Linked DNA regions of Homo sapiens: all the other regions are linked to region 1. The links come from fine-mapping of genetic effects on plasma protein levels. A gene starts in region 1. Each other region holds a variant in brackets. All regions are shown on one strand. Distances are from middle to middle.

The links. PIP is the posterior inclusion probability: the model's chance that the variant is causal. Protein levels are from antibody-based Olink assays in UK Biobank. Linkage for the fine-mapping came from a reference panel and not from the study's own genotypes, which makes the PIPs less certain.
Region 2: its variant is fine-mapped to the plasma level of the PCDH9 protein (UK Biobank, PIP above 0.99).
Region 3: its variant is fine-mapped to the plasma level of the PCDH9 protein (UK Biobank, PIP above 0.99).
Region 4: its variant is fine-mapped to the plasma level of the PCDH9 protein (UK Biobank, PIP above 0.99).
Region 5: its variant is fine-mapped to the plasma level of the PCDH9 protein (UK Biobank, PIP above 0.99).
Region 6: its variant is fine-mapped to the plasma level of the PCDH9 protein (UK Biobank, PIP above 0.99).
Region 7: its variant is fine-mapped to the plasma level of the PCDH9 protein (UK Biobank, PIP above 0.99).

Annotation. Positions count from the first base shown.
Region 1 is chr13:67,228,612-67,233,237 of GRCh38, forward strand. PCDH9 (protocadherin 9) reads right to left here and starts at 1,725. Exons shown (of 5, transcript NM_203487.3): 1 at 1,169-1,725. RefSeq lists a silencer at 1,996-2,135.
Region 2 is chr13:67,150,042-67,154,667 of GRCh38, forward strand. The region is part of intron 2 of PCDH9 (protocadherin 9); the gene reads right to left. Among named protein-coding and RNA genes, the nearest start is that of PCDH9, 78 kb to the right of the region's middle. The variant C/T (reference allele first, on the strand shown) is at 2,548.
Region 3 is chr13:67,134,732-67,139,357 of GRCh38, forward strand. The region is part of intron 2 of PCDH9 (protocadherin 9); the gene reads right to left. Among named protein-coding and RNA genes, the nearest start is that of PCDH9, 93 kb to the right of the region's middle. The variant TTAA/T (reference allele first, on the strand shown) is at 2,028.
Region 4 is chr13:67,180,510-67,185,135 of GRCh38, forward strand. The region is part of intron 2 of PCDH9 (protocadherin 9); the gene reads right to left. Among named protein-coding and RNA genes, the nearest start is that of PCDH9, 48 kb to the right of the region's middle. The variant A/G (reference allele first, on the strand shown) is at 2,709.
Region 5 is chr13:67,570,674-67,575,299 of GRCh38, forward strand. No RefSeq gene overlaps it. Among named protein-coding and RNA genes, the nearest start is that of LINC00364, 200 kb to the left of the region's middle. The variant T/A (reference allele first, on the strand shown) is at 2,180.
Region 6 is chr13:66,758,378-66,763,003 of GRCh38, forward strand. The region is part of intron 3 of PCDH9 (protocadherin 9); the gene reads right to left. Among named protein-coding and RNA genes, the nearest start is that of PCDH9-AS2, 64 kb to the right of the region's middle. The variant T/G (reference allele first, on the strand shown) is at 2,381.
Region 7 is chr13:67,062,719-67,067,344 of GRCh38, forward strand. The region is part of intron 2 of PCDH9 (protocadherin 9); the gene reads right to left. Among named protein-coding and RNA genes, the nearest start is that of PCDH9-AS4, 74 kb to the left of the region's middle. The variant G/T (reference allele first, on the strand shown) is at 2,291.

The sequences.
Region 1 (4,626 bases):
GTAAATAAAAACACACCGTCACAAAATATCACCACACATTTTCCCCTGAACATTAGTAAACATGGCAGTTTGCTCTGCCACTGTTTGCAAGTTTACTCTGTGGAGAAAAACACTAAATATCTCCTGCTGGTTGCATTTGCCGGGAGAAAATAAAATTTTCTACTTTTGAATTAAGGACAGCTGCTATTTTTACCTATATTCACGCACGTTGTTTTTCAGAATACTGTTTAATTCAAAACATGCATTCTTGTTCTCCTCTTCCCCTCCCCCTGTCTCACCCTCCTCCTAGCCTCTAACCTACCTCCCTCAGTCTTTTCAGGTGCAAGTGAAAAACACTAAGTATTTAGCTACGGTTCCTGCTAATTGCTTTGTCACATGTCAAATGTGTTTTCTTCTCTGCCCCACTGAGTCACCTATCTTTTCTAAAAAGGCTATCTTTTTCTTTCCTCCCAGTTCTTCAACTGCCTTCTAATACAATCTTACTGGGAAACGAGCATCCGGACATGCCGCTGCAGCGGCATCAGAAGCAATAGTCACCGGCCTCTACACATCCTCATTGCCTAAAAGCACAACAACAAGACTTCAGATTTCTTGCCCACAGCTTGCTCTCCTTTCTCCATATTGACAAATTATCCTCATTAGGATTCATAAACACATTAAAACTTTTAAAAATGTATAATAATATAGGATTCATTTTCCTAGAGGTGGAAGAGAGTGCCGAGATATAAGTGAAACGCAGCTAACATTCCCATGTAACATCACAATATTTTCTACTGAACATAAAAGAGAAAAAAAATGCAATTTCTTAATCCTGATCTCTGGTTAGAATATTAGTAACATTTGCCACACATAAATACTGCAACCCAATCATGCAGGTAAAAAGGCTTCTGCTTAGATAACTGCAGTTTAAATGGGTGCAAGGCTCCAGGCAGCTACCTACTTGAGTAGGACTGGTCAGTTCTCAGGCTCTAATCTTATCTGCATTAGGCTGCACAGTAGCTGATGCCCGCGATTAGTTCCGGCAGAGTGATGCAGGTAGGGATGCAGATACAGCCGAGTAGGTGAGCTCTGCCCCAACCGTCTACCCAATTACAAGCATCTTTCGCCTACACTGAGGACACATCTAAACACAGAATTTACAATTGTGCATGCGAAACTTTACACTTACGTTAGTTGCCTCAACCTTTCCCCTTTCCCAGTATGCTGCAGTTAGGAATGATTTGTTCCAACACATAGAAAGCCATGCATCTGGTAGCACCAGTTTGGGGAGAAATCAGAAGCAGCAAAATGTTTCCTCCTTGTAAAATGTGTTGCTTCGGGCTGGCAAATTAGCAACTCCAGAGAACAAATTCACGGATTTGTCGTTAGTCATTCTCTCCACATTTCGTCTCTCTTACCCACTGGGTCTGGGTTCTTCTGGGCATTTAGCACACACAACACATAGTTGCACTTCTTCAGCTCAGGGATATTTTCCACAGCAGCATGCATACCATTTCCATCCGATGCCAATACTGCTTAAGTCTCTAACTTCTTGTAGGAAACGTCAGAGTTGCGGTGATGATGATTCTCTGACAGCTATCCGGGTGACAGTTGCCCGAAAAATTCCTAATCGGTTATCTCTTGCGTGCTTCAGAGACTCTGAGGCGCTCCTTTCCGTCTCGCGTGCTCTCCCTCTCTCCCTTCCCCTCTGCCCCTCTCTCCTTCTCCCTCTCCTCTCTCTGAACTGAATTTCTTGATATAACTCTCAATAAGCCCAGAGGGAGGGCGTGACTGCCCAGGCCCCGCCCCCGGGCTCTGATTGGCCTGCATCTTGCGGCGCGGGCGGCCGCAGCCCGGCGCGAGGGAGGGAGCGCGGAACAAGGCGCTGACTGTCTCCCAGCCTCCCCTCCTCCGCGCCCCCTCGGCAGCAGCGAAAACCCGGAAATCTGATCCTGGCCCCAGGAGAGCCGGGTTCCATGAGGTGCACTGAGCATGCTCTGCAGGGTCCGGCGTGGGAGGGACGCGCTGGCGCTCCCCAGGCCCGGGCGGAAGCGGCGCTCGCAGGCGCTGAAAGCGAGCGACCCTCTGAGCCCGGGTGGTCCGGCGGGCAAGGGCGGCGCGGGAGACCCGCAGGGCGCGGGCGCGGATCCGGGGAACCAGGGCCACCGCTGCGGGCGGATGGGGGTCACCGAGGCGGCTCGTCTCCAGGCGCACACTTCGCACATCTCTTTGCTAAGTGAAGGGGCCAAAATGCACAGATGGGGGAGTCTACCCAGGAACAGAGGCGCGAGACGTATAGCCACCCCTGGGTTGGGAGCACGAGCCAGCAGATCCCCGGAGCGCGTTAAACGGACAACATGCCCGGTGCTGCAAATAGAGGCTTTTGCTGGCAGGGACATTGGAAAGAAGGGCGGAGAGGGAGTACAGCGAAAGGTGGGGACCGCAGAATTTGGAATCTCTGCGGAGACCGGAAAGAAAATTAATCGGAGCACTTCCTACATGCAGAGCCACGGAAACTGCCTTGGAAAGAGAAAGTGGCAGCGTCTGGGTCCCCTCGGTCAGCCCGGGCCAGTCGGCTGCGCGTGCGAAGTCTCCTCTAGCGGAGCGGGACCGGCCGCGGCGGTGGATCGTGGCGGTCCCTGCACTTCTGCTCCAGCCGCGCCTGGAAACCTGAGCCCGGACTCGCGGCTGCTGCAAAACCCGCTTCCAGCCCACCTCACTGCGAACTTTGCTTCCGAGGGGCTGGAAGGAGTCCCAGGCAGCTGTTTCCCAAGCTGTGGAACACTTCCTTTCCCCTAGGCACTTTCTGCTGATTCCAACTTTCTTTCCTGTGATTTTCGTCTTTTCCCGTGCATTTCATTTCTCCGACTCCAGCTCTGTACTAAATCCTCACAAGTTTCTCGTTTTCATACGGGAACTGGATGGAATGACTCCCCAAAAAATACAGCTTTATTTCTCAAATACTGACCCCCAAAGCACTATCTAGTAATATATTTGATTGATCTTTCAAAGTCAGTAAACCACAAAGGTTTGTGTAATGGCTTGTACTTAACGCCTGATACCTGAGTAAAGTTTGAAGCATTAACATAGGAACAGTTCACTTGGAACAAAAATTTATTTTCTGAATGACCTATAAAGGTTGTCAGAGAAGGTCTTAGTACATGATTGAATAACTTGGTCTAACTTACAGGAAGAATAAAGGGCATTTATTTTAAACCTGTGTGTTCCCCATTCTATAATGGGCTGCCTAGGCATTAAAGGCTCTTGACATACTTAAGCTCTTGACTGAGGGCGTGTTGGAGATTACCCCTTGTTTTTGAGTACAATAGTTTTGTTTGCTTTTTTTCTTTTTTAAGTAACATTTGTTTTTAGACGTTTAAATGAAAAGTAAAAAAAAAAAAAAACACCAATCAAGCTTACTAAGCCATATATTGAATAAATAATGACATGATTTAACCAACTAATTTGACATCACAATTTTCCAACATGAAATTGTAAGCTCTTTTTAATTCAAACTTTTCTGAGTTAATATTCACAGTTCAACTGCAGTGTCTAAAAGCCCACTGTAAAATCCATTAATCCCTTATATGTAAAATATAAAATACTTTCCTTGCAGATAATAGACTGATATTTTTTAAATAGCAAAGCAACTTTTATTATAGTAATATTTTGTATGATTAGAATATATAAAATTCAAGAATAGAAAGGACTTACAAGTATCCCAAAGTGAAAAGAAAAATATTGCCTCACAGAATAATGTCAGTGAATGAAAGGATGATTCTTTTATCTTACCACAGTAAACGATCATTTTGCCATTCACAAAATCTACAATTAAAGCTAGTACATTGTTCCAATTGTCACCTATTTTATGCACTGCACTGTTTTTAAATAAATGAACCATCATTGTGATACATTTACAATAAACATAGCAGCACAGCCACTTTCCAGTTCATTTCATAAGCACCACAGTTATATCATATTCTTATTCTAATCATACCGTAGTCATTTCAAAGTCATGTTGTAGTCGCAACACATAGCTTAGCAATAATTATTTAACATCATTATTAAACGGAGTTGTTTCTCTTTGCTAAGGATAGCTTCACGTGTTGGCAGAACCCATTATTACCTCCTGCTCATAAATGAAATCTTAGTTTGAACACAAGATGAAGGTTAGAGAAGAGAAAAAAAAAATCATCACATGATTCAATTAATGACTATGAGACTTCAATTAAAGAAAACCACAGGTCAAAGCCCCAGAATGAAATATGTCTAGATTCTTTTCAAAGGAGATGGAGTTTCAGAGACAAATAGAGCTATGGACTCAGGGCATTATATCCTTTAGGTGTTTATTTGGCATTATCTGAACGACTGAGATTCCTTAATGTTCTCAGTTTTACCTCTTAAATCTAGAATAGTTGAGGCTGGTTTGCCCTATAATAATCCGACTTCTAAACTCTAAAATGAGAACTATTATTAGAGATCTTATTAATATTCCTAGAGGAAAATTAAATATAAAGGGTCATATTCCTAACCCTGTGTTATCACAACTTAAGGTTTCTTCCCAAAACACTATATAAATCATTTTCATAATGAGAGCTGTTCATAATCTACCTCTCCAATATTAATTTTTTAAGTTAGGTCTGTGTA
Region 2 (4,626 bases), 79 kb before region 1:
TTTATTTTATTTTTATTTTTTTGATATGGAGTCTCACTCTGTCACTCAGGCTGACGTGCAGTGCTCCGTGCAACATCTGCCTCCCAGGTTCAAGTGATTATCCTGCCTCAACTTCCCAAGTAGCTGGGATAACAGGCATATGCCACCACGTTCAGCTAATTTTTAAAATATTTTTAGTAGAGATGGGGCTTCACCATGTTGGCCAGGCTGGCCTCGAACTCCCGACCTCAAGTGATCTACCTGCCTCAGCTTCCCGAAGTGATGGGATTACAGGCATGAGCCACTGTGCCTGGCCCATAATTTGAGTTTTAATCAATACAAAAAGCCCAAAGTGTTGGTTTCCATACAAGTCAGAAAAAATCAGTATTAATAGAGAGTATTAATTTTATTAAGCCACATTTTGACTGCATTAGTAGGTAAAAAGGATGGAAAACTAGGACATCTTAAACAAATGTTAATCAGAAATATAATCATTAGTTTTCATATTCATTTCAATGGCCCCAGGGTGTTCCCTCATTCAATCCGTTGGTTTTGCCCTAATAATAAGTATTTTAAGTCATGTGATTCTTAAACACAATACATCCAAAACATGTGCCAATAATTATATCCAGAAGTGAGAACAATAATTTCTAAATAACTAGAAAACCATTTGCAACTAACATAAACTTGTTTTAAATTTACCAATAAAACCACTGGCAAATAAAGTAACTTGTACTCGCCCTTTGTAAACACAGGTGTTAGTGGTGTTCCCTAATCTAATAGAACTCCAGGAAGACTGTATCTTTCCACTGCACTACTATTGGCAAGCACAGTTAGTCTTTAATCCCTTTTAATCCAACCTACATATACAACAAGATTAGCTTTCTTGTTTAACCAACTTTGTAAGTCTCACTGCCCAAGGCCTTCCAATTGCTTCCCACCATCCACTGCCTAAGTAAACCTTAGTTTAGTCTTAATCATAAGACTAGATTCAACATGCACCATATATGAATTATACTTAAAATACTGTTCCCTCTGCCCTCACTTATTTTAATCCAGAAAAATTCTCCATCTTTTTCAAAGTCCAGTGGAAGGCTCATCCTCTTCTTGAGGGTCTCTTTGGCCATTTTATTCAAAACTCATCATTTGATGAGTACCAATAGCTCCTTTTTTAAAAAAAAATCACATTCATGTGTTTTATCTCTGTACTATCTTGAAATAGGGCCATTTATTGTGATTTCTCTGCTACTAAAGTCAAACTGATAAGTAGGGATGGAATTGTTTCTTAACGTTTGTATCCCCCAATTTGTTCCTCTTTAGGGATATTAACGTTTAATGCAATGAAAGAACATGACCTTATTTCCTACAGCCTTTGCACATCTCTTCATGGGTTTCTGGTTGTGGGTGTCTGTGTCTGAGATGCAAAAAGCAGAATTGGGTTCTACTGGTAAACTCAGAGCTCCTACTTCTTTTATTGTTTGCCTGAAAAAAAATAGGCATAGTTTTGACTTAGGTAGGGGATCTAAGAGTACTGCATCATTCCCAAATCCAACACTGTTAGAGTTAGAAGATCCTGTATGATTCAAGCACCTGGTTTCACACAGTGACTAAGGATGGGGAATATATCCCTTCTACAAGCTGGCAAAGCTTTTGCTCTATACTTAGAGGAAGAAAAAAATTCATCTTTTCAATCTATCAAAACTGAGGCACATAATAATTGAGAGGAGAAACTTATCATTATGCTCAGGGACTTTATGCTTTTGAGGCCTCATAAAGGACTCAGGAAGTATCAGCCCTTGTATAGCTGCAGGCAACATCTCCACCCAATTCTAGGCCACACTCATTTTTAAGGCACCAAAGCTCAAATGCACTCAGGGTCCTTGCATCATCATTTTGCCTAAAGAGAGATAATTTTTTTTTTGTTACAAGACTATATGAATGAACTAAAAGACTCTTAAGGATACTTTCTCATCTCATAAAACTCTCATCCCAAGTTACATGAGATAAACTGAAATAGTATTTTACAAATTCCTCCAAATTGTATCTTCTTATAGCTGAAGAACTTACAAGACTTTTTGTGTCCTATTTGTTCCAAGAATTGTAAATTTTACATGAAATAAAAGCATAATCTGCCTTTTGGAAGTGAGAACATTCCATACACCCAGAAGAAACCTGTATGTTTTACTGTTGATAGGAAACGGAACTCTGCCAGGCAGTGAACTAATGAATTACAATTTGGCAGCGCTCCATGCCTGATACAATTTAGTTCAAATTTATGAAATCCACTGGTTCCAGAAATCCACTTGTGCCTAAGGCCTCTCTGTACAGCTCAGAGTAAAAAGCATGACATTGCTAGACTTCTGATTTTACCTTATTGATAAAGAAAAATTTACAAACAACAGATTTTTCAACCTAAATCTCTGAACATTTCTTCAATTTTTCAACAACAGTAAATCAGTTAAAATCAGCATATCTTTGGTAGATAGCAGAATATTTCTCAATCTCTCATTAAATCGAATCCCCTTAGACATAGCTGACCTACACATCTCAAGAAAATGTCTGCAGCCT[C/T]ATAATGACTGATGCCCTTGTGGAAAGGAAGGAATATAAAGCTTGTTCAAAGGCGTGATGTCTCATCCTTATATTCTTTAAACAAAATAGCCCCCACTTTTTTTTCCAAGTGAGGGAAAAAGAGTAAAGCCTCTTGATTCATATGAAGAAAGAATCATCATTACTGCTACTTAAAACTCACGTTCTTTGGGCAAACCTCTTTAAAAATCACACTGAAGGAGTAAGAATGAGGAAGATGAGAAGGTTTTATGTTTTTAATACCTAGGAAGAATAAATCTAGGATGGTAATTAGAGGAATGAGGCTTAGGCCTCAAGGAAACAATGTTTTCTTTCTAAAACGCATAGAGGGTAATGACACTTCCTATGTATCCCCCGCCCCAGTGAAGAATTCCAGACACTTCTCCAACTAGCCCTCATCACTCCCACCTGGAAGTGCACTCATTCTCACTTCTGGGTTTATGGACATGCTCGCCTCTCCCTCTTTCCTGCTTGCCCTTGGATACCTGGATGGCCTTATGACCCAGTCTAGGCAGCCTCTTTGTAACTCCTCTCTGACTAAATTAGTTTTCCCTTTCACAGTTTTTTTTTTTTAAGATAGGGTCTCTCTCCGTCCTGCAGTCTAGAGTGCAATGGTGCGATCATGGCTCACTATAGCCTCAAACTCCTGGGTCCAAGCAATCCTTCTGCCTCAGCCTCCTCAGTAGCTGGAACTGGAACTATAGGCATGTGCCACTGCACTTGGCTGATTTGTTATTTTTTTTTGCAGATATGGTGGTCTCCCTATGTTGTCCCAGCTGGTCTTGAACTCAGGGCTCAAGTGATCCTCCCACCTTGGCTTCCCAAGCGTGGGGATTATAGGAGTTGGCCACCACTCCCAGCCCACAACATTTTAAAAACAAGTATCTTATAGCACTTTTCACAATACACTTAACTTGTTTAAACATATTTTCTGTTTTTCAGATTATGAGCCTCTCACCTAGAAACGTCTGTTTCATAACATCTATGGATGTCGTTTTCACCTTTGTATTGTGTGAAATGCCTTACACATTAAGGGCATTCCATATGGTTGATGGAAGTTATATACTTAAGCAAGTTTCTAAAAAATAGATACATTTTAAAACCCTTTAGTATCTACCCTCTTTGCTAACTTAGAGGTTTCTACTGTGATTCTTTTATTCACAGTTACAGGAGGTTTACCATTTGCTGAAATAATACATTTACAGTCTAATAGGCACTGATGAAAAATGTAGTTTACTCTGAAACAACTGAATTGCCAAAGGAAATCATGTTGCATAAATGACAAAAGCAATACCAGTCTCATCTGGGCTTGCGACCTTAGAATTAAAAAGACACAAAATGAATATACGTGTATACTTTGGCACCTTGCTCGAGGCATATATTGTTTTGTGCAACTAACTTAAGGAGAATTGGTGAATTGAACTGAAGACAAGTGTAAAGGAAAAAGAATAAAAATAAACAGAAATTTAAAATGGCAAAAACTCTTCCTCCTATAAGACAAAAAACAGTACATGTATATAAGATAATTAAGCACTAGTTTAGAACAGGTAAGAAAAGATTCTATAGTCAGGTGTGGTGGCTCATGCCTGTAATCCCAGCACTTTGAGGGGCTGAAGCAGGTAGATCCCTTGAGCCCAGGAGTTTGACAAAAGATATGTAATAAGAGAATGTGATGAAATTAGATAAAAAGAAGTGATTATAGGCCAGATGTGGTGGCTCATGCCAGTAATTCCAGCACTCTGGAAGGTGGGTGGATCACCTTAGGTTAGGTGGATCGCCTGGGCAACATGGCAAAACCTCGTCTCTATGAAAATACAAAAATTAGCTGGGCACGGCGGTAAGTGCCTATAGTCCCAGCTATTGGGGAGGCTGAGGCAGGAGGATGATTTGAGCCTGGGAGATGAGGCTACAGTGAGCCACGATTTTGCCACTACACTCCAGACAGGGAAACAGACGGAGACCCTGTCTCAAAAAAAAAAAAAAAAAAAAATATATATATACACACACACACACACACACACACACACACACACACACACATACAAGATACTCTCTTTTTTG
Region 3 (4,626 bases), 94 kb before region 1:
TGAGAGCAAACAAGCCATCTATAAATACACTCCAGAAGCTTTTAAAACAATGTAAAAGTGGCATCTGGCATGAGTAAAACGGCAGTTTAAACTCCTTGACTCGCCATCAAAATTTATGTTGAAAACTGTCTCAAACAACTGATTATTTAAAAAGATAAAGTCACGCTGTGTTGGTTGATTTTTGTACCATAGAAACTGTAAAGGAGCTGTATGTAGTTAAAGGGTACCAATGAAAAGTGAAAAGTGAAAACTTTCCAGTCCCTTGTATAATATGCTTAGGATTATCCAAATTATTTCTGTATAAGAAAGATTAACATTATCTACTATTCCTAATAATAATGCATTTTGTTGATTTTATGATACCATTATTTATACAACTTACTATGATTTCCTACCATTAAAAAGTTTTGTCAATTAAGTTTTAAGATGCAGTTGATGGCAAGATGCAGCACACTTTCAGAAACACCAAAATGTATGTTGTGAATTGTTAAAATATATTATTAACAATATTTTCTAGTTTTAATTTTTTTACTGTTTAATAATTCTGCCATTTAGGGGATGGTGAAGGTCCTGGGGAGATGTCATAGTCAGTTCAAACTGGACATTTTGCCTCAAAGCCTAGCTTGGAAAAGGAATTCTAAACTCTAGCTATGTGTTTCCAATTTATATTTTCTACATCTCTCTTCATTTTTACCCCATAGATCTCATTTTATAATAAGCATTTCTTTTCTTTTTTCTCCTTTTTAATATTCCTCACTTTGATTCACATAAAAAAGGTTTTCTAAAATTACGAAGTAGAACATCTAGCCAAATGCCAGTACTTTACTAGAAACGGTAATTTCACGGTAAGAACATTGGTGGGCAGTGTTTATGAGATCCCAACAATTAGTGGTTTATAAATAGCAGAGTTCTGAGGAGAAGATGTCAACAAGAATGGACAAGGAGAATTTGAAAATACGTGCAGTCAATTTACAAGGAGTCAATTAAAAACAAAAAAGCACTTGCAGAAAAATAGAATTAGGAGAAATTGTAGTACATTTGCAAAGTGAAGAGAGGTGCTGGCATGTTTTTCTTTCAGATTTTTTCTCTCATATAATGCCTTCTTAAACAGTGGGAGAATTAGAGACCTGGTGGTGTTGACTGGGGGGATTCTTTGCTACCTTCATTTACAATAACATATCCTGTTCCTAGAAAGCAAGAAAGGGTCTCTCTGGTATCTCTGCTATGCTGCCTCCTCAACTACTACTACTTCCTCCCCATCCATACTGAATATTCTTAAAATTTTCAGTACAGCCATATGCTACATAGCAATGTTCCAGTCAAGGATAAACTGCATATCTGACAGTGGTTGCTATCTGACAATGGTCTCATAAGATTAGAATACTGTATTTTTATTGTACCCTTTCTATGTTTAGATGGGTTTAGATACACAAGTACCTACCATTGCGTTATAATCGCCCATAGAATTCAGTACAGTAACATGCTGTAGAAGTTTGCAGCCTAGGAGCAACAGGCTGTACCACGTAGCCTAGGTGTGTAGTAGGCTGTGCCATCTAGGGTTGTGTAAGTGCACTCTATGATGTTAACACAGCGACAAAATTGCCTAACAACACATTTCTCAGAACTTATCCTATTGTCAAGTGACGCATGACTGTGTAAGTGATAAGGTGGGGAAGAATCAACCCTTCACTGCAGTGCCTGTTTCTCTTCATGTGTGCCTGTGTTCCACATGACATTATAGTCTAGACCTGCAGGTGGTCCTTTGAGTTTGTTGCATCATATAATGCTAAAGTAAGAAAATTTGGGAGAGTTTATACTTTGAGAATTCAATATGCTGTATTAAATTGTACTCACTGGAAATATAGGCTAGCTAAACTCTATATAAATGGTGTAGTTCAGGCAGATATTATGGTCTAATCTCTTTGAAATGGAGACTGAAATTGCTGTCTGAATCAATCACTTGGATTTTAATTTTATATTTTACAAATGTAAATAATTTTATATTTTCCAAATTTTACAAATGTTAG[TTAA/T]TAATAATAGTTATGTTATATATGAAATGGAGACTCAAATTCCAGTCTGAATCAATCACTTGGACATTAATTTGATAGTTTACAAAGGTTAGTTTATAAGAATAGTAATAGTAATAGACATCAAAATATCTGTGGCTCTAGTTTCTCTGTGTCTGCATTTTACACAACGTGTTTATGAATAAAAGTTTCTATAAAATGATTTATGAAAATTATCTACATTAGGTTTATCTCTTGTAGATAATTTTCATAAATCATTATGTAAATGATGAGTTAATGGGTGCAGCACACAAACATGGCACATGTATACATATGTAGCAAACCTGCACATTGTGCACATGTACCCTAGAACTTAAAGTATAATAATAAAAAAAAAGAAAATTATCTATATTTATTTATCCTGCAGTGTTGCTGTGTAGCAATGTGAGAAGCTGGGACTTCTAATCTAATCATTTTGTTCGGTAAATATTTTGTCATTCCTGTGAAGAGCCAGGGCTTGATACGGGTGAGCCAAGTCATATTCAGGTAGTAATATAAGGAAGATAACTGGGTGGTAAACTATTTAAATCATATCGTTTGTATGAAACCTCAAACTGTAAGCTCAACGGAATGTACCAGAGTATCTGTCACTATTTCCTCAGCCTGCTTTGTCAAGTGCAATTTCGTAGGTAAAAACTTTGGGGTGATCCTCGTGCCTCCATCATAAAGATGAAAATATAGCATGAATTATCTTTGGTGATAAAGAACACTTACCAAAATAGAGATGACTCAACTTCTACACACAGCAGAGCTGTGTTGTAATGGAAATTGGCTTTCAGCTTCTGAGACATGTAATTTTATAATACATTTTAGAACATTTAACCTCTCCACATTTTTTTCAGCTCTGTCTGCAATAGTGAGAGGTAGTGCTATTGTTACAGAGTCTGCTAAAGCTACTAATGTCCTATTTATATACAGAAATAAAAGGAAATTCTTCCTTCTCTGGTGGTCTCTTTCAGCTACTAAAAAAGTTGCTTGGCCTAAAAATGTCATCAGCCACAGGGATTATTTGATTTGCTTTGTCCATAATTGATTACTTGGCTTTTACCAAAAAAAGCACATCTCAAAAATGTCCAAAAAAGGAGAGGAAATATGTTCAATTCTATGTAAAAAATTTCTAAAAATTTTTGAAGCTGAAAGGAATGCCCATAAACAATCTGATTCCAGTCTTATTTTCAGTAGTCATGCATAAATCATGTTCTATGACACAGAGAGAAAGAGATTTTTTACCTAAAGTGGTATTTATAAGAATTTTTAGCAGACTGGGAAGAAGTCCACTTTAGCTAAATTAAAAAAAAATTCACCGACTTCTATATATTATGAAGTGGTTTTGAATTCTATCTTTACTATTTATTTGAAATTTTCTGAGCAAAGTACTCTGTCTCATTGATCCTCAATGTCCTCCTATACAAAATGGCAAAAAGAACACATCCCCATTTCATTGAAGTGTTGTGAGAACCAAACAGGCTGAAATATCTGGCCTGTTTAGAATATTATCTAGCACACCATAAGCACACAATACAGGGTGCCCATTATTCATGTGACTTATGTAAATTGCAGGAAATATTAAAAATATTATTATAACGGGTTTTGTTTGTTCATGCTTTATTTACAGTTTGTGCCACCTGTTGATCTGAACTGAAGCAGGAAGGAAAATAGGGTCTGGAGGCAGGGAACATAAGGCCCATTCACACTTCAGCTATGACAGGAAATATCTGCTCCAGAGGGCATAGGCCAAGTGAACGACTTTGTGACTTTACTTCATCCTCTCCATTTACATAGGGCGTACCCCGAGTCACCAATGGAATCCTCTAGGGGGTATTTAAACTCCCAAAAATTCTGTAATGGGGCCTTTTGAGCTCCTATGCTCAGGCCTGCGCCCGCATTGTGGAGGGTATTTTCATTTTTAGTAAATCCCTTTGTCCTTGCTTTGTTTGTGCATTTTGTCCAATTCTTTGTTCAAGACACCAAGAACCTGGATACCCTCCACTGTTAACAGAACTACTGAACTTATTGCTAATATGTTAATATATTATTGAAAATAGCCTATACATATGAGAGTAAGTAAATACTTTGATCAAGCCACACAAAATTATCCGAGGAAACAAAGTGGAACAGTTATGGTTTAAGGTAAAATAATGTAAAACAATATCAACAGTATGTATGTCTATGTGATTGAGAAAATGAATCTTGTATAGTAAGGATCCAGAGCAGTAAGATAATACCTGTATCAGGAAGGAAATGCCACTCCGTTCAATTCTCAAGGGCAAAACTCTAGTCAATCCTATCACATGTGCACCTTCTTCTGCCCTGACATCTGCCATGTCTTATTTTGCATAAGCCATGGTGAATTCTGTCAAATCACCCAAGTAATAACATAACCATCTGAAACATTAACTGAAGACTTTCTTCTGACATCGGCTGTCACACTATGTGTGAATCAAATTTGCTTCATTAAAATAATTTGGGTTTTGTTCTGACTGCTCAACATTGCCATTTGAATCTGTGAGCAGCCTTATTGACTCTTAACCGCTATTACCAAGTCTTAATCGCTCAGAGA
Region 4 (4,626 bases), 48 kb before region 1:
ACCATCACATTATTTATATCTTCAAGTTCCCTAATTCACTTTTTGTTATTGATTTTTGGATTTTGCTTTTGACCTGTAAGACTCTGCATGGCCTATGTCCATTTAAAATAACTATTCAAAATTCCCTGGTTGGTCTTCACGAGCGGAGCCAACTTTGTGAGCTGCTCCTAAGTCTTGTGTCATTGTGATTACCCTCTAGGCTTTTCTATCTATTGCTCCTTCTACCTTCAGAATTAATAGATTGGGAAGATTAGGTCAATTGGCATTTCTGAGGCAAGTCTGAATTAATTTTCTTTGGCTTGTCTTGTTGAATTTCACACTCCCTGAACATTTCTCACTGATAAGCAGATTATGATGCTGGCTCATGTTCAGGGATAGCAATCCAAATGTATTTACAGAGTTGTATTGTTACCTTTTAGCACCATCAACTGCAATAAGCATTATCGTTTATAAAGTTAAAGCTCTTCATTTTAAATCTGTGTCAAGAGGCTAATATAACTGTGATTTTAATTACTAAAAATCAATTTCAAATTAATGTGAAATTTAACAGTGGGAGATGTGTCGGAACCCAGAGACAATCAGCTTGGCCTTTACCTTAGGTGCGGTCCTCTATAAAAGGCATTAACATAATGCTGGTTTTCTAGATCAGTGGTTTTCAAACTAGTGTCTATGAAAAGCTTAAGTCAAAAGAGGAGTTCCTGGGGATTTATTATTGAAATTTAAGTCATGGTAAATCAAACTTGCATATAGTGCAAATAATTTTTTTTCAACTTTCTACTTAAAGCAGCTGCATAGGGAGAATAATCATAAGAAGCTATCGGTCTTAGTTTTTAGGAAATCATTGGTGTCATTAAGCAGAGCGATTTCATAAGCCGTAGAGGAAATTCATATCACAGGAGGTTCAGGAGAGAGAGGAGAGAGGAATGGGTAGAAAAATCACACAGACCGTTTTCAAAATATGTTTGTGAAATGAATATCAAGACAACTAGAAAGCAGGGAAGGTTAAATTATTTTCTAACTTGCTAATATGGTATGACATAATAATGCTTTGTAGGTACAGTGTAATGGAGGTGATACAAAGTTCTGTGCACATATCCTAAACAGGGAAAGAATTTCAGTGGATGCCAGCTCTATAAGTGGATATGAAATCAAAGCAAAGTAAGTGAATCTTGGAAAGAAGGAGGGACAGTGTAATAGAGCTGTTTATTTAAAAATTACCAAATGGACACAAAAGTGACTAAAAATTAGGCCATAAAAAAAAACACCACTACAAAATAAGTTGTTTCTACAACCATTCTTCTCAAGATACAAGCAATACCTATCTTCCAATGGTTTATTCTCTGTCTTCTAACACCCTCGTGCCTCCTCAGCAACATTTAAACAGCAAATCACCTTCTTTTCAGGAACATTTTCTTCACTTAATTTCTAGGACACTACAGTCCCCAGTCTGGCCTTCACCTGATTGACCAGTCCTTTGTGTCCTGTGGTGGTTCCTCTCCTCCTGCCTCTGAATGTGGGCATGGCTCAAGGCTCTGCCCCTGGATCTCTTCTTTCACTTGTTACCAACATCAGTTTCAAGTTTCAGGGCATTTAAACAACACAGTGATGGGTCTCAAATATGTATATCCTGCTATATCCTCCTTCTCAGGACTCATAAGTTAAACTACCTCCATAATATTTCTATTTAGATGCCTAGTAGACATTTTAATCATCCTGCCTAAAACAGGACTCTCAGTTTTTCACCTGAATATGTTCCAGACCTAAATTTCCCAATTTCCCCTGTCATTAAAGTGAAAAAACATGGAGTTGAGAGGTTAGACACAAATCTTCTCTTTCCTTCACACCCCAACATCTAATCTGTCTACAGGCCATATGGGCTGTAACACATATGCAGTACATATCCAAAATCTCACCATTCTTTACCACCTTTTTTCGCTATATCTTAGTCCAAACTATCATTATATGTATTATTATTTCACTCTTTCCTCACTAAAGTCAGTTCTACACATAGTAATCGAAATGTTCTCTAAAAATAAAAAAAAATGAAAATCATAGGTCAGATTAAGGTATCCCTCTGCTGAAAACTGTAAGTCACTTTTCTTCCCACTTAGGATGCAATATAAATCTTTACTGATTAAATCAACTGATCTCTGTTGAAAAATTTACACTGACAGTAAATTGTTACCACCCAGACTTAAGAAGCCATTGGGTGAAAGAAGTAGAATAGCGTTTACTAATTCTTCCTGGAAAAATTAGGAGATGGATAAAATTTATTCTGGGGTACCCTCTTCCTTTACATGCCACTCTGCCTGTCCCCAGGTGTTCTCATTATGCCATAAATTCTTCACTACTATTCCTAATTTCCATGGAATGTTGGAAGGATCAATGTAGGAAGGATCTAAATTCTAAAATTACTATCTTTTCAATCTCCTGAAAAAGGAAAATGAACAAGAATGGCCCTATTACCTTAGTGCAATTTTCTTAGCTAGGTGTTGGAAGGAATAATTGTAATTAATTAATCTATAGATTGTAAGGATTTCTATGACTGTTACTACTACTATAGACATTATCAATGATAATAAAATAATCATAATAATTACTACTATTTTATGCCTGGCACTTTAAGTACTTCTGAACTTCACTACCAAACACTGCAAAAACTAAGGATCAGAGAGCCTAAAGTTTTGCCCCCAAACTAGAAAGTAAGC[A/G]ACTGTCAGGAATCAAATCTATTTCTACCACGTCCAACCATGGACTCCTAACTATTAAGAAAAAAAACACAAAACTAAGCATGTGAAGTGGAATTTGGGGTAGTGTAGGTAAATATATTTTTGAAAAAGTCTGCTATGAATTGGCTCCCTTTCAAGTTCCTGCATTCACAAGTCTGCTTCCTGTCTTTTCTTTTGAATCTATAACTTCAAACTATGACTCCAAATTTATCTGTAACTCCAAATATCTCAGCTGCTATTTTTATTATGTTTCTCTTGGGTCTTTGAGATATGGTTAAAGCAGAGTACTCAGAAAAGTGTGAATAAAGACAATCAGTTTAATTACAACACTTTTGTATATTATACATTTTATTTTTTAAAAAATCAAAACCAAAAAACCAAATAAGATATGATGAATGTTGTTTAAGGTAAAGGACCAATGGTGTTTAAGCAATGTTGATATTTTTTACTTTTATAATGAAAGATCACTGTTATATTTTAAAATAATAATTTAAGAAAATTTGGAAAAACACTTTCAATGATTAGAAAATAAGATTTAACCTGTTTACGACTGAGGTTGCAATGTTTTGAATTTTTGCATGAAATTTACATGTGTTACCTAGAAAAATTCAAGGAACAAGAATTTAAAAAGAAAAAAAATATTATGTCCCTTTGGTGAGTTACGTGGCATTCCAATAATGGAACACTAGGCATATTAAGATGCAGATTTGCAGTAAATTTTCAGACATATTTGCAAATCGTCCTATGATCATTCATTGATTCTTCTGTTAAAAGTATGTTTATGAGAAAACTAGTATCCTGAATGTTGCATTTGCGTCTTTTAAAACATCTAGTGTTTGCGGTATAAATTTTCTATGTTTCATGCGCAAAAAATAAAGAGAATAGTGTCTCTTTCCTTAGTCTTTACTTCACAACCACCTGATTAGTAAAAATGTAGGTTATAACTTCCTTCAGATGCTTGGTGTCTAAACCATTCTATCAAATGACACAGGGAACAACACTGGAAATTAAGGCATACAGCTTGTTTAACAACAAAACTTGTGAAGGTGAAGGTTATAATGAAAGAAAAGGAGGTAAGTTCCTTTTCATGCCAAAAATTCTGTGCTAATTCTGAATCATGTTTGCCTTTTGACTGTGTGATAATCTTACTAGATCCGCATTCAGATCTCTGTGAATTTATGGAGGTACAGGTTTCAAAAACTAAGGGTAGGGCCCAGGCATGGTGACTCATGCTTGTAATCACAGAACTCTGGGAGGCTAAGGCGGGCAGTCTCCTTGAGCTCAGAAATTCAAGACCAGCCAGAGCAATACGGTGAAACCCCGTCTCTATAAAAAAATAACAAAAATTAGCGGAGCTTAGAGGCACACAACTGTTGTCCCGGCTACTTGGGGGGCTGAGGCAGGAGGATCGCTTGAACCCAGGAGGCTGAGGCTGCAGTGAGCTGAGATCGCACCACTGCATTCCAGCCTGGGTGAAAAAGTGAGACCCTGTCTAAAAACCAACCAACAAACAAATAAAACCCTAAGGGCAGGGTGAGGGGTATTGATGTATTGGATCTTAGTAAATAAAACCAAAAATTCTATAAATAGTGCAGTTTTTCACTATTTTCTATTCACGAGGAGTGACCTTTTCTGACCTGTCAAAAGATTATTCATCCTTCAAACCTCATCTTAATACATCCCTTTTTGGTCCTTTCTGTTGACTGCGATAACTTCTTTCACAGAATCTCCGTACTACATAGGCAAGACTTGTCACATACTACCTTTGATGAGAATTGCTTGTCTACCATTCATGTAACTCCTATACCTAGCAATGCCCTGGAGAGCAGTGAGTGAATGTTGCACTAATATTTGATCTACTAGAGAGCCTGGCAATTAAAATAAATATATTGTTTGTAGT
Region 5 (4,626 bases), 340 kb after region 1:
GTAGACAGTAGGTAGACTCTGAGGCTGATAAATATTGACAATTATGTGATTTTTTTATGGTTGTGAATCAAGTTGAAACAGGACTATTTGCCAGTCCTGTATTGTTTTGATTTTACTAATCAAGTAGTTTAGCTTCCTTTCAACTTAATCCTTGGAAATTCATTGAGTTTCAGGAAGCTCTACATGTCATACCATTCACCATTCCCTGACCCTTCAATGCTGCAGATAGACTGAAGACTGTCATATCGCGATGATCACACCAACTTCATTTTTGAGAAAACTGAACTCATCTCAGTAAGGTTCCTCCAATCACAATTGATATCAGAAATCTTCATTGGATCATGGACTCTTCCACCATCATTTCAAGAACATCAAAGCAAAGTTTCAAAGATTCTTTTGCTCCCTTTATCAATATATGCCATATGCAAATTGTGTGTGTGTGTGAGAGAGAGAGAGAGAGAGAGAAATTTTCAGAGTCTGGAAGAGAACAAAGATTGGACTCAGTGTAAAGATAACACATAAAAAAAGAAATCAAATATTCTAATCTGAAGATTTGCTAGTCATTATTCTATATTACATTAAATTATGTATAATTTTCTAATATCACGTAGCATGAGCCAGACTTTGGTTAAGATTTACATTATCTAATTCAGCCAATGGAAATAACTATAGCTGACTTTCCAAATATGCTATTAAATACAGAATCATTTTGCATGTGTGTGCATAAATATGTACACATGTATAAGCATGCACATCTATAGCAATGAAATAAGCCCTCCAAAATTAATCTTCTTTAATCGAGAACTGTCAATATTGTGCCGGCAAAATTTCTCATTTTTAACATGTAAATTAGGGAAGTTTTATAAATCCTTTTAAAATGTGACCTTTTTTTCACTCCAAGGACCATATTGAATTATAATTCTAGTTAAAATTTAGTGGAAAAAAAAGATTGAAGAACGGAGAAAATTGTTTATGCCTTCCAGTATAGGAGAAGCTAGAGTGATAATTTCAGGAGTTAGGATTAAAAATGGGAGGAGGGACAGTAAGTTTCTGATGATACACACTCTCTGACATATCATCGTTCAATTTTCCAGTTTTTCCAAAACAACATTCTAGCATGCATCAGAGAAAAATAAAGCATTTGTGAATTTTAGCTAGGGATGTAATTTGTTGCAGTTTCATGTTCTAAAATGACTTTTGCCAGTCTCAGCCCCATGACTACAAGAGCAATCCCTGCAAGAGGAGCATATGAAAGTCGACATTTTATTCTTTACATGAGGTAAAACTTTTGAGAGTGAAAATAGTCACCCTATTATTTTGAGTTGTTTAGAAATATCAGAAGCAGCAATCTAACCCTGCAGTCTGATATTTCTCATGTTTTTCAGATCTTTGACGACAGATTCCTTTGTTTGCTAACAACTTATCCCAGTTTACTTGAGTAAAAAAGAAAAAAATGTTTTATTGGAATGTTATTGGAGTTACTGAGAACTTAAAAGCAGTGAAAAAACAGAAAAACAAAAACAAAAACCCCAAGACCTTAGCCACAGGAGCTCCTAGAGATTTTTTTTTTTAGGATCTGTTCTAATGCAACTCAGTGCAAAACATCTTCTATATACCGCTCAGCTCAAGAATCAGTTTCCTAAGAAAAACATCTGATTACCCTGTATTAAAATTTTGCCCTTGTGTCCATCATCCCAGACTAGAAATACTAGAAAAAGTGAGGAGTCTGCAATTAACTATCAGGTGTGTCATGAGCATGACTGCCCTCTGAGTTGGAAGGTTTTCAAAACAGAGAAAAACTCACAAATTAAGTTTCAAATTTGGCCAGTTTCCTGATCACTGCACATATTGATATATAATATTATAATAAGACTTTTCATATCCAAAATTTTTCTACCTCCCAATTCCTAAAGCAACTTACTTTACTTTTTCTATTTTTTCTTGCTTTGAATCACCAAATATCTTCTACCCTGACATTTTAAAAGAACCAGGTTTTTATTTAATAATTTAAAAGCTCTGCCTTTAAACTTTTCTATATTATTGATTTATTATATTTTATCCCTTATTTTACTTCCTTTATGTAAATTTACTTGTGTTTTTCCATATTTTTATATTTCATATTAGTTCTCATTTTTAATGAGAATTTAATTTGATGCTAGATACATTTTTTTTCTTGGAG[T/A]GTAGCGTGGTGTTTTGTTGGAATTTTGTGGGAGCCTTAGCAATTTCAATTCTGATATCTTTTTTTCCCATGGATTTTAAGAAATTTTCAAGGTAGAGTTGGAAAGTGGACAATAGAAGGTCTATTCTTTAATACCAATTTTTAGTTATAATGCTTTGTTGTGAGAGGAAAAGACCTATTGTATTTTTTGTGTGTATAGAATTTATTTTCCATATGCAAAATTTCTTTTTGTCTTAATTAGTAGAAAAAAGTTATAAATTACATGAAGGCTTCATAAGAGTGTTCTTTCTTTATTACTGAAATATTTATATAAACATTTCTTACCATCAATATGTACATTTTAATGCTTACAACGTCTAGTTAGTTTCATGTATTTTTCATATATTTACTGAGAAAAAAATGATTTCACTCATATACTTGTTTTTGGTTGCTTTTAGTTTGATCAGGCCCAAAATCCCATCCCGAAATAGCTTTCTAAATTCAGTGTTTTGGGGTATGTCAGTGGGCTATCAGTGCATTCTACATGTTTCCTTGGCGAGCCACCTCAACTATTTGAAAACATTTGGAAAACTCTCCAGTCAGCCTCTCAACTAATTCTGAATGCTGTCTACATCACACACACACACACACACACACACACACACACACACAACTAGTCATCAAAGCTAAAATTTAGGATCCCTCCTTGCCTGACCATCCAACTGTGAATTCATGGTCCTGGTTATTGAGGGTAAGTAAGGGTGGATGTGTGGGCAGGAGGCACAGCTGACTAATAGCTAATCAGAGAATTGCATGGTAGCCCATTTGCCCTTGGTATTTCCTTTAGAAACCCATAGGGGGATAAGGAGGATTCTCCTTAAATCTAGTCACGTTTGCTTCTTCTTTTCTCCACTATCCCTAGCGCGTAACCAATGATTTTTTTATCTTTTACTCCTCTGTATCATGTTCTTTTGGGTTCTTGGATTTAGATTAGTCTTGTTAATGGGTTAGAGTGAAATATGGGATTATCAAAACATCTTTTGTTCCCCATAAATATATACACCTACTATGTACCCACAAGAATTAAAGATAGACAATTTTAAAACTAAATGAATAAAATAAAATTCAATATGAGATTAATTTATGAAGTTCCTCTCCAAGGTCAGTAGTTGATGTGTTAAAGAAGAATACTGGGAAATTGAAAAAAGACAATGCTCATTTTACTATGCATTGAATGGAATACTATTCAGACTTAGAAAAGAATAATCATCAGTATTGCGTCTATTTGGTAGTTCATCCATAGTCTGTCTAGTAAGGCTGCTATCCTGGTTCCTAATCATATTATTGAATGACAGACGCTTTTCTCCTATTTTTTATTTTTCATAAAAATCTAATATTTCTCTAGGCATTACTAGCATGTATTCAGTAATAAAATATGCAAAATACATTAAATATTTAAAAGATTTACTTTTAAAATAGTAAAAACGTTTGATTTTAATATTCTTTTCTGTTCATTGCATTTCCTCAGGAGCTAGTTCTTCTAATGTTACATTTGTATTTTCTTTTTTTCCTCAAAGATGTGATGATTCTTATTTATCTAATCACATTTCTAGATGAGTTTCTACGTTGGTTAGTGTCTGTGGTGAGAAAGCACTTTCTGAGCTCAAACAAGTCTATTTATAACCAGGGTGACCACTTTGGACAGCAGTTCTGCTTCAGATAATACTTTTAACCTTGTACAGAAAGAGTCAATATGGCAGGCCTAAAGTATTATATTAATACTTGGCTTACATCTAGGAACTTGAATTTCAGGAAGTTTCCACCATTAACTGACGAGTGCCTCATCATGCCTGCACTGTTTATGGAAACAATGTGGTTTATGCTAAACAACTTCTTTACTTCTAGGCATCTGGAATTGGGTTATATGCCAGGCATGATGTGCCAGTATGATCAGGTTCCAGGAAAGAATCTCTGAACACCGAGTCTCTAATGAGCTTCCCAGGTTGACAACATTTCACAAGCGTTGTCAAAACTCATCGCTGAGGAATTTAAGGGCATCCTGTTGTAACTGCATGGGGAGAAGACTCTTGGAAATGTGTGCCTGGTTTTTTCCAGAATTTATACCTTGCTCCTTTTCTATTTGCTGGTGGTGCTTTTTATCTTTTTGTTGTAAGAAATCATAGCCATGGTTACAACTGTATGCTGAGTCCTGTGAGTCCTCCTTGTGAATCACTGAATTTGGAGACAGTCTTAGGGATCCTGACACAGAGCACTAATTCATTTTTGTTTTCATTTATTGATTCATTCAACTGAAGATTAGATAGTATAAGCATGTGCCCCAGGGAAGCTGCTGCATTTAATATTAATAAACAAATAACAAAATTTTAAAGTCTGGTGGAAGATTCATATATTAAAAAATAATTAGAGTGCTAAGATAAGCTCATGGGAAAATGGCAGTGCATGGGTAG
Region 6 (4,626 bases), 470 kb before region 1:
TCACCATTTTACTCTCTTTTTCTAGGAGATTAACATTTTTAAAAGTTTTATTTTATTTTAATTGACACATAATTGTGCATATTTGTGAGGTACAATGTGATGTTTTAATACATGTATACACTGTGTAATGAATAGAACATTCCTATTCAATAGAACATGATAATTTATTCCTTCTATCTATCTGTAATTTTAACAAGTGGTCTTCTTTTTTGGTTGTGTTTTTGTCTGGTTTTAATATTAGAGTAACGCTGGTATTAAAAAAATAAATTTGCAAATATTTTTTTCTCTTCTATATATGAAAGCGTTTGAGAATAATTGGTATTAATTATTCTTTAAATGTTTGATAGAATTCAACAGTGATGCCGTCAAATTCTGAGCTTTTCTCTGATGGAAGACTTTTTACTACTGATTCAGTCCCCCTTACTCCTTACTGATCTATTTAGATTTTCTATTTCTTCATAACTCAATCTTTGTAGGTTATATGTCTTCAAGAATTTATCCATTTCTTTTTGCTTATCCAATTTGTTGGCAGGTAATTGTTCATAATAATCTCTTACAAAACTTTGTGTATTTCTGTGGCATTAATTATAATATCTCCCTTTTCTTCTCTGATTTTATGTATATGAATCATCTTTTTTTTCTTAGTGTAGTTAAAGATTTGTCAATTTAGTTGACCTCCTCAAAAAGCCAACTCTTTGTTTCATTAATCTTTTCTATTTTTTAATCTCTATTTTATCTTTTTCTCTGATCTTTACTGCTATCAATATTTACTTTACATATGTAGCTGCTCTGAAGTTGGGTACGTATATATTTACAATTGTTATATCTTCTTGCTGAATTGGACCCTTTATAATTACATAATGACCTTTGTTTCATTTTACAGTTTTTTTTACTTAAAGCCTAATTTATTTAATTAAGTAAAGGTACTCCAAATCTCTTTTGGTTGCCATTTGCTTGGAATATCTTTTTCCATCCCTTGACTTTCAGTGTGTGTACCCTCACAGGTGCTGTGAGTCTCTTTTTGGCAGCATATGGTTAAATCCTGTTTTGTTTATACATTCAGCCACTCTTTGTTTTGATTAAATAATTTAATCTATTTACATTAAATCTAATGATTGGTAAATAAGGACTTACTATTGCCATTTTGTTAATTGTTTTCTAGTTATTTTAGAGATCTTTTTTCTTTCTTCCTCTCTTGTTTCTTTCTTCCTCATTTAGTTTGTTTCTTTGTATACCTCTAGTAACAGTGCTTTCTTGTTTTTTACTTTTTGTGTATGTATTCTAGAGTTTTGCTTCACAGTTACCATGAGGCTTATAAAAACATTTTATAGCTTATAAAAACATTTTATAATTTTACTTGAGTCCTTCCACTTCATTTTGAATTTTTGATGTTATACTTTACATATATTTAAATTGCATGCCCTTTAACAAATTATTGTGGTTATTAAAATTTTGAATATTTTTATCTTTAAATCTTCATACTAAAGATATTAGAGATTTACATATCACCATTATAGTATTAGAATATTCTAAATTTGACTGTGTAGTTCATTTTAGCAGTAAGTTGTTCTGTGCTCAGATGTTTTTGTGAAATTCATTCATTTAATTTTCTCTCAGATTAAGTAACTCCCTTTAGCAATTCTTACAGATGTGGTGGTGATGAACTTCCTAAGCTTTTGTTTTTCTGTGAAATTATTTATCTCTCCTTCATTTCAGAAAGATAGCTTTGCAGGATATAGTATTTTTGGTTGCCGGTCATTTTTTTTCCCCCTTCAGCAGTCTGCATATATCATCCCATTCTCTTCTGCCCTGTAATGTTTCTGTAGAGAAGTCCTCTGCTGGACATATTAAAACTCCCTTTTATGTTATTTGCTTCTTTCTCTTGCTGCCTTCAGGACCCTATATTTGTCTTTTATCTTTGAAAGTTTTTGATTATAATATGTCTTGAGGTAGCTTCATTTGCATTTAATCTACTTGATGTCTTTGGATGTTGAGGGAAGTCAGGGACCCCAAACAGAGGGACCGGCTGAAGCTATGGCAGAAGAACATAAACTGTGAAGATTTCATGGACATTTATGAGTTCCCCAAATTAATACTTTTATAATTTCCTATGCCTGTCTTTACTTTAATCTCTTAATCCCGTCATCTTCGTAAGCTGAGGATGTATGTCACCTCAGGACCCTGTGATGATTGTTATCTGTACAAATTGTTTGTAAAACATGTGTGTTTGAACAATATGAAATCTAGGCATCCTAAAAGAACAGGATATCAGCGATTTTCAGGCAACAAAGGAGATAACCATAAAGCCTGACTGCCTGCGGTGCCAGGCAGAACAGAGTCATATTTCTCTTCTTGCAAAAGCGAATAGGAGAAATATCAC[T/G]GAATTATTTTTCTCAGCAAGGAACAGCCCTGGGAAAAGAATGCATTCCCAGGGGGAGGTCTCGAAAATGGCTGCTCTGGGAGTGTCTATCTTATGCAGTTGTAGATAAGGGATGAAATATGCCCTGGTCTCCTTCAGCACCCCCAGGCTTGCTAGGATTGGAAAATTCCAGGCTGGTGAAATTCTAGTCAGACTGGTTGTCTGCTCCTGAACCCTGTTTCCTGTTAAGATGTTTATCAATGACAACGTGTGCCCAGCAGGACATGGACCTTCATCAGTAATTCCAGTTTTGCCCTGGCCTTGCAATCTCAATCTGCCTCTCTGCCCTTGTGATATTTTATTGCCTTGGAAGCATGTGATCTCTGCGACCCACACCCTATTCGTACACTCCCTCCCCTTTGAATATCGCTAATAAAAACTTGCTGGTTTGCGGCTTAGGTGGGCATCACGGAACCTGCTGACATGTGATGTCACCCCCGGAAACCCAGCTGTAAAATTTCTCTCTTTTGTACTCTTTCTCTTTACTTCTCAGACTGGCTGGCACTTAGGGAAAATAGACAAGAAACTATGTTGAAATATTGGGGGCTGGCTCCCCCAATAGTTGGACATTCCTGTACCTGGATATTTATATTTCTCTGGGTTTGGATACATCTATTCTTTTTTAAAAAATAAGATTTCTACCCCCTTTATCTTCCTCCGCCCACTCTTGAATGCCAATCACTTGAAATTTTTTTCTTCTGATGCTGTCCCATTAATTCTGTCAGCTTTCTTCATTTCTTTTCATTATTTTTTCTCCCCTGACTCTATGAGTTTAAATAACTTGTCTTTGAGTTTAAAATTCTTTCTTCTACTTTATCAATTCTGCTGATAATATGTATTGCAGTTTTCATTCCAAGTATTGTATTTGCAGTTTTCATTCCAATTATTTTATTTTTCATCTCTAAGATTTCTGTTTGATTTTTATATAAATAAATAGCTCTGTTAAATTTCTAGTTCGGATAACATTGTTTTTCTCATTTTGTTTATTGTTTCTTTGTAGTTCTTGAATATTGGTGAGCTTCCTTAAAAAAAATCATTATTTTGAATTTATTATCAGGCAGTATATACATCTTCATCTCTTTAGGATCAGTTACTGATACTTTATTTTGTCCATTTGGTAGTGTCATTTTCCCCTAATTATTAATGATCCTTTTGTTCATGTGTTGATGCCCTACACATTGAAAAAACATTTTTTCCAGTATTTGCAGTATGGATTTGTCTGAAAATGCCTTTCAACAGTAAGCTTGTCCAGAGATTCTGGGCAGGTTGTTTGGTGTGGTCCCTAAGCCTATGACTCCTGTAGACTTTTCAGTGGTAGGTAATGCCCTTCCCTCAGAACCACCATGGTTGGTGCAGTGCGATGCTGGAATTCCATGGCTGCTGAGGCTTTCACATTGCCAGGGTATATCTTCAGCCCATGGCTGCTAAAGCCTGCCAGTTGCTGAGGTTTGTACAGAACCTATGGTGACTGCACTTGGCTGGTGATGATGCAGGCCAAAGATTTTGCAGGGACTATGCATTCCCTCCTAGCACTGAGACAGGCCAGGAGGCTAAATTAATGGACACCAGCCTGAATTCAGAGTCCATAGGTGTCTGCCTGGTGCTAGGTTTTACTGTGGTGGGCCCAGTGTTAAGGACCAAGGCAAAATCCTGTGCTCACTTCCCATCTTTCCTCAAGCTTATGATATATTTCTTTGCATTGCACTTCCTGGGTTGGTGGAGGAATTAAACAGGTAATGTAACACTGTCATTCTTGCCCTTTTCAGTTTATTTTTTCCTGTCATTATGCAACAACGAGGCACTGTAATCTCCCAGCTGGTTTCCTTACCTCTTGTCAGGTAGTTTTGTGCATGTATAGTTGTTCAAATTGATGTTTTGGTTGGGAGAATGGCAATCACTGGAAGTTCCTATTCTACCATCTAACTCGACTCAATCCTAAACAGATCATTTCTAGGTTGTATATATTGAAATGTATTTATTTGATATTATGAAACATAGACTATACCAGGTTATTGAGTCAGCTGATATTATGTGAATATCCAAATTCATTAAGATACAAGTCTCAGAGAAAAAAAATTTAATTTATATACACAATGAATCAGTTCATATTTAAATTCAGAAAGATTCAAAGCAAGCGTATGGTAAATCATTTTTCAAAATAATAAGACTATTTTTTTTTGAGATGAGGTCTTATGTTGCCTAGGCTG
Region 7 (4,626 bases), 170 kb before region 1:
TGAAGTCAGAAGATTTGGGAATGAATTTGTGTCCTAAGACAATTGTGGAGAAATTAGCAAAACATGCTTTAGTTTAATTAAATTGATGATGTAGATTTGGTCCTTTCTAATATGTTTCAGAAAAATAGGATATATTCATTTTCTTTCTTTTAAGAGGGAAGAGAAGCAATCCAGAAAACATGCATTAAAGCTTCCTAATCAAGATCAGCTTTTATTGTTAAAAAGTGCTAAGCAGAGCCTAAGAGGTGAAATTATGATGGTATTAGTACTCTATATTTACTTAAAGGTTATGCAAATCAGGATAGTCTAGATTATGCTGCAGAAAATAGCCCCAGATTCTTAATGGTTTAAAGCAAACAAGGTGTATTTCTTACTCATACTACAAGTCCATCTCAGGTCAGCGGGTGGCTCTATTGTTAATTGTACTCACTTTGTGGTCTTAGCTGATGGAGCAAGTACTACCCGTAACATTGCTGGTTGCTATGGCATAGTGAGGTAGAGAGTTCTGGACAATCTCCCGTAAGCAATTACATGCTCCAGCCCAGCAGGGATAAACCTCATACCAGCCCACAATTCATTGTGTACCATTCACAAGGGACCATCTACCACAAAAAAAGCCAGGAAGTATAAATACCAGAAGCAGCAGCTGCCATTTATTAAGGTCCAACTACATGCTAAGCTTGGGGAGGTGCTTTAACTACTTTGCATAATTTTAATACTTACAATAACTCTTGCAGGTAGATATTATTAAAATTCCATTTAGCTTACTAAATGAATCTGAGGCTCATAGAATTTAAAAAGCTTTCCAAGGCAAAAAAAAAAAATGCTACCACATTCTGATTCTGATAATGGTCACCCTCCTTTCCTCTATACTATACTGCCGATTTGCCAATGAGGTCTCACATGCTTTTTAATTCGTTGCTTTAAAAACAATAGCAAAATGCCTGTTTCATGCATAGAGCCATTTGGGTTTGATTTTATACTTTATATAACAAAACGTCTGTGAGCAAATTAATGACATAGAGCTAAGACATGGTTTTAATAGCTTATTTATAGAAAAGGAATGAGCAGCCATAACACAAATGTGCTCAAAGTAGATATTGTTTCTATTTCTTACAACACAAAAGTGTACAACAAATAGGTTGCAGAGTGATAGGTACTATGAGGAATTGATATGATATTTATATAGTGTCAAGAGTCCAGCCTATAGGAAAATTGTAGAGAGAGCAAGAACATTTTGCATAAATTATTTAATAGAAAAAAGAAATAGGATACTCCACTCTATGAATCCCCTCTTTGCTTCTTTTCTTTGCTTGGATAGTTCTCCTGGCCTCATTGTTAACCTCAGAAAATTGTCCCATCTGGTCCCAACTGTTAAAGTGCTGGAGACCTCTGTTGAGCAGCATCTTCAAAATTGCCAAGTGTTCTAACTCCCTGATATTAGAAAACAGTAGACTGGAAAATTACAGGAGATTGGTTTCCATAGACCCTTGTTTACAACTGTAGCTTGTAACTAGACAGCTCCAACTCATTCTATGGCAAGTGGTTTCTCAGAAAATTCTCTAGATCAGAAAAAAACAACCTGTGCAGCGAATTTTAAATCCTATTTATTCCTTCCAAAATTGCTGCATTTTATAGAGACAATCAGCCTGCGTACCAGTGCAAGAGCCTAAAATATTTTCTAGATTTAATATAAACATTACAAACAGAGGAAATTATTTAAATGGTATAAAATAATAAGGAATAACTATTTTTAAAAACCTAACAATCAGTTAGTGCTTTTATCATATCAAATGCATTAAACTTCTCTGAACTGAAGTCTTTTCATCATAATGTACTAAATTAAATATCTGTTCCTTGTAGAATATGATTCTGCTAAACTAGATTAAAATCAAATCATGGACAAAATCAATTTTACTTACAATAATCCTAGCCTACTGAGACTCCAGTCTAGTAATCACAATAAATGTCTCTCCTCTTTATATTTCTTCTGCAGTTCTGGACATTCCCAAAAGATGGAATTTGTTGACATTGCACACATTTTTAATGTATTTTATTAGAGTACTATGAAAAGAAGCAAATGACACATTTCAACAATCCCTTAGGGCATTCAAAGGGGTAAAGTATATGTATTTTTGTATCTGTGTATGTGTGTGTATCTGCCTGTGTGGAAATAGATAGATAGATAGATAGATAGATAGATAGATAGATAGATAGATAGCAGAGAGGTAGACAGATAGACAGATATTTATACATATATCTCCAAAAATGGAACCTGAATGAACCTAAG[G/T]GATTATTTGATTTAAGAGAGAATGCCAAATATTTAAACTGTCTTGGGGGAATTATGGTGACATTGGATCTTAGGATTACTTCTCACATAAAACTCAGAGGATTTGGTATCTTGTCAGAAAACTAGAGTGAAGCATGCTTACATGATGTTAATCATGCATTCCATCATTCTTTTATTGCAAGCCCACTAAATGGTGACAAATCAAACTGAAAAGAAAAACGAGCGTGTTCTCTGCCATGGCTGAGCATTTTTTTAAAGAGCACACTCTAAGAGCTCAGCTTTGGTCATTTGCCAAAGAAAAGTGTTATTTTATTAGTCTAATTTTAATAGAATACATGAAAACAAATACTTGCTTATCTTCTACTTAAAGGTGCAATTATTCTTTCCCAACTTTTTTTCAATTCTCTAAAATTACATTCTAGTTTTAGATATCAATTAAACTTCAACTGCAGTAAAACCCAGTGAGATAGAATTGAACTTGGAAGCTGATGAATCATATTATAATGATACATGTTAGAAACCTGTAATGGCTAAAAATTCTATTAAATACACCATAATAGTATAGTTTAGAGGATACTTGTACAACTTGGGTTAATTTTAATTTTGAGCTTCAAAAATTCTGCTGGAAAATATTGTCTACCACCACCACTGGTTTTGAAATGAAGAAGCTGTGAATCAAATAATTGGCAGGAAAATTATAAAGCCTTACGGTTAGTAGGGGCAGAGCAGGTTTTACTGCAGGGCCAGTAGTCTTTCACTTGAAATGAAAAATAAGAATTTTGCTATTGTCACTCCTTTGGTGGCACTTTGATTTTATATCTAAGAAAGTTAAGACTATGCTTAAAAGTCACATGCTAATTAGAATATTTAGCAATCACGGTGGGAAAGAAAAATCAGTACATGTTTTGAAAGACTAAGATTAAAAGATATCATGATTCGAAAAGAGTCAGTCTCCTACAGTGCTAGTAAAAGTAAAAGCTGACTCAAATTTTCTGGATAATATGGCTTTAAAAATCACATGCTACAATATGTGTTTCCTTCACTAAACACCCCTACCTTAAGAAATTTAGTTTTCAAAAATGATATAATGTGTGTGCTTGATGATGTGAGAGTTCAGGGTTGTTTCTCATAGTATTTTTTAAATGGAAACGATATATTTGTGCATGTTTAGCCTATCAACTCAGTGGAATGCTTAACAGTCATTAAACAGCAGGCCATAATTTGGGTCAGCTTTTTTTTTTTTAGACAGAGTTTCACTCTTGTTGCCCAGGCTGGAGTGCAATGGCACCATCTCGGCTCACTGCAACCTCTGTCTCCCGGGTTCAAGCAATTCTCCTGCCTCAGCCTCCCAAGTAGCTGGGATTACAGGCGCCTGCCACCACACCCAGCTAATTTTTGTATTTTTGGTAGAGACGGGGTTTCACCACGTTAGCCAAGTTGGTCTCAAACTCCTGACCTCAGGTGATTTGCCCGCCTCAGCCTCCCAAAGTGCTGGGATTATAGGAGTGAGCCACCGCACCCGGCCTGGGTTAGTCAGTTTTAATACCCAAAGAGAGTAGAGAATGCATGGTTCAATTTAAGCCAGATATGGAGAAACCTTCTATTTTTTTAAATATATGACTAAAATAAATGCTTAAGAATTTTTAATGAGGCCTTTCATACAGAATTTTTTTTATTATATTAGTTTAAAATTCTAGGGATTTTATCAGTGTTTTTCTTACTGCAGGAATAGCAGATATAGTTAACATGAAATTTAATAAGTCACTTCTTACTTTTCCACATTAGCAAACATCTAATAATTTTTCCTGTATAACCAATTCCAGTATGTCCAATTTGGTTGCAATTTGTTCAAGGACATATATTTCCCTAATCAGATTATATGCATATGCACTTATAATTTTCCCTTAATATTATATTCAGAACAGACACAACACATCCATATGAAATGCACGGATCTATATCCTCAATAGCATTGTTGCCTATTAACAGTGTAGAACTCTGCTTCTAAGAGTGATAAATGACTAGGGCCTGGAAACAACCTAGGGCTGTCAGGCTTGCTGCGGTTATTTGATGCTTTTCCTCTTCTCTTTTAAACCAAGAATTTTAGCTGAAATTTTTCATTCCTATTTCTAGCCATCCTACTACATGCTATATTTTCCTTCAATTTAATTGTGGGAGAAGGTGTCTGTGTTAATGAGCAAAGAACACAATTGGCAAGTTCGACACTAGAATCACTCAGTAAGAAGTATGTATGCCACATATATAATTTTTAATACTAACTAGACATAATTTACTAGTGACAAGAAATAGGCAAAATAAATTCTAATAATATATTT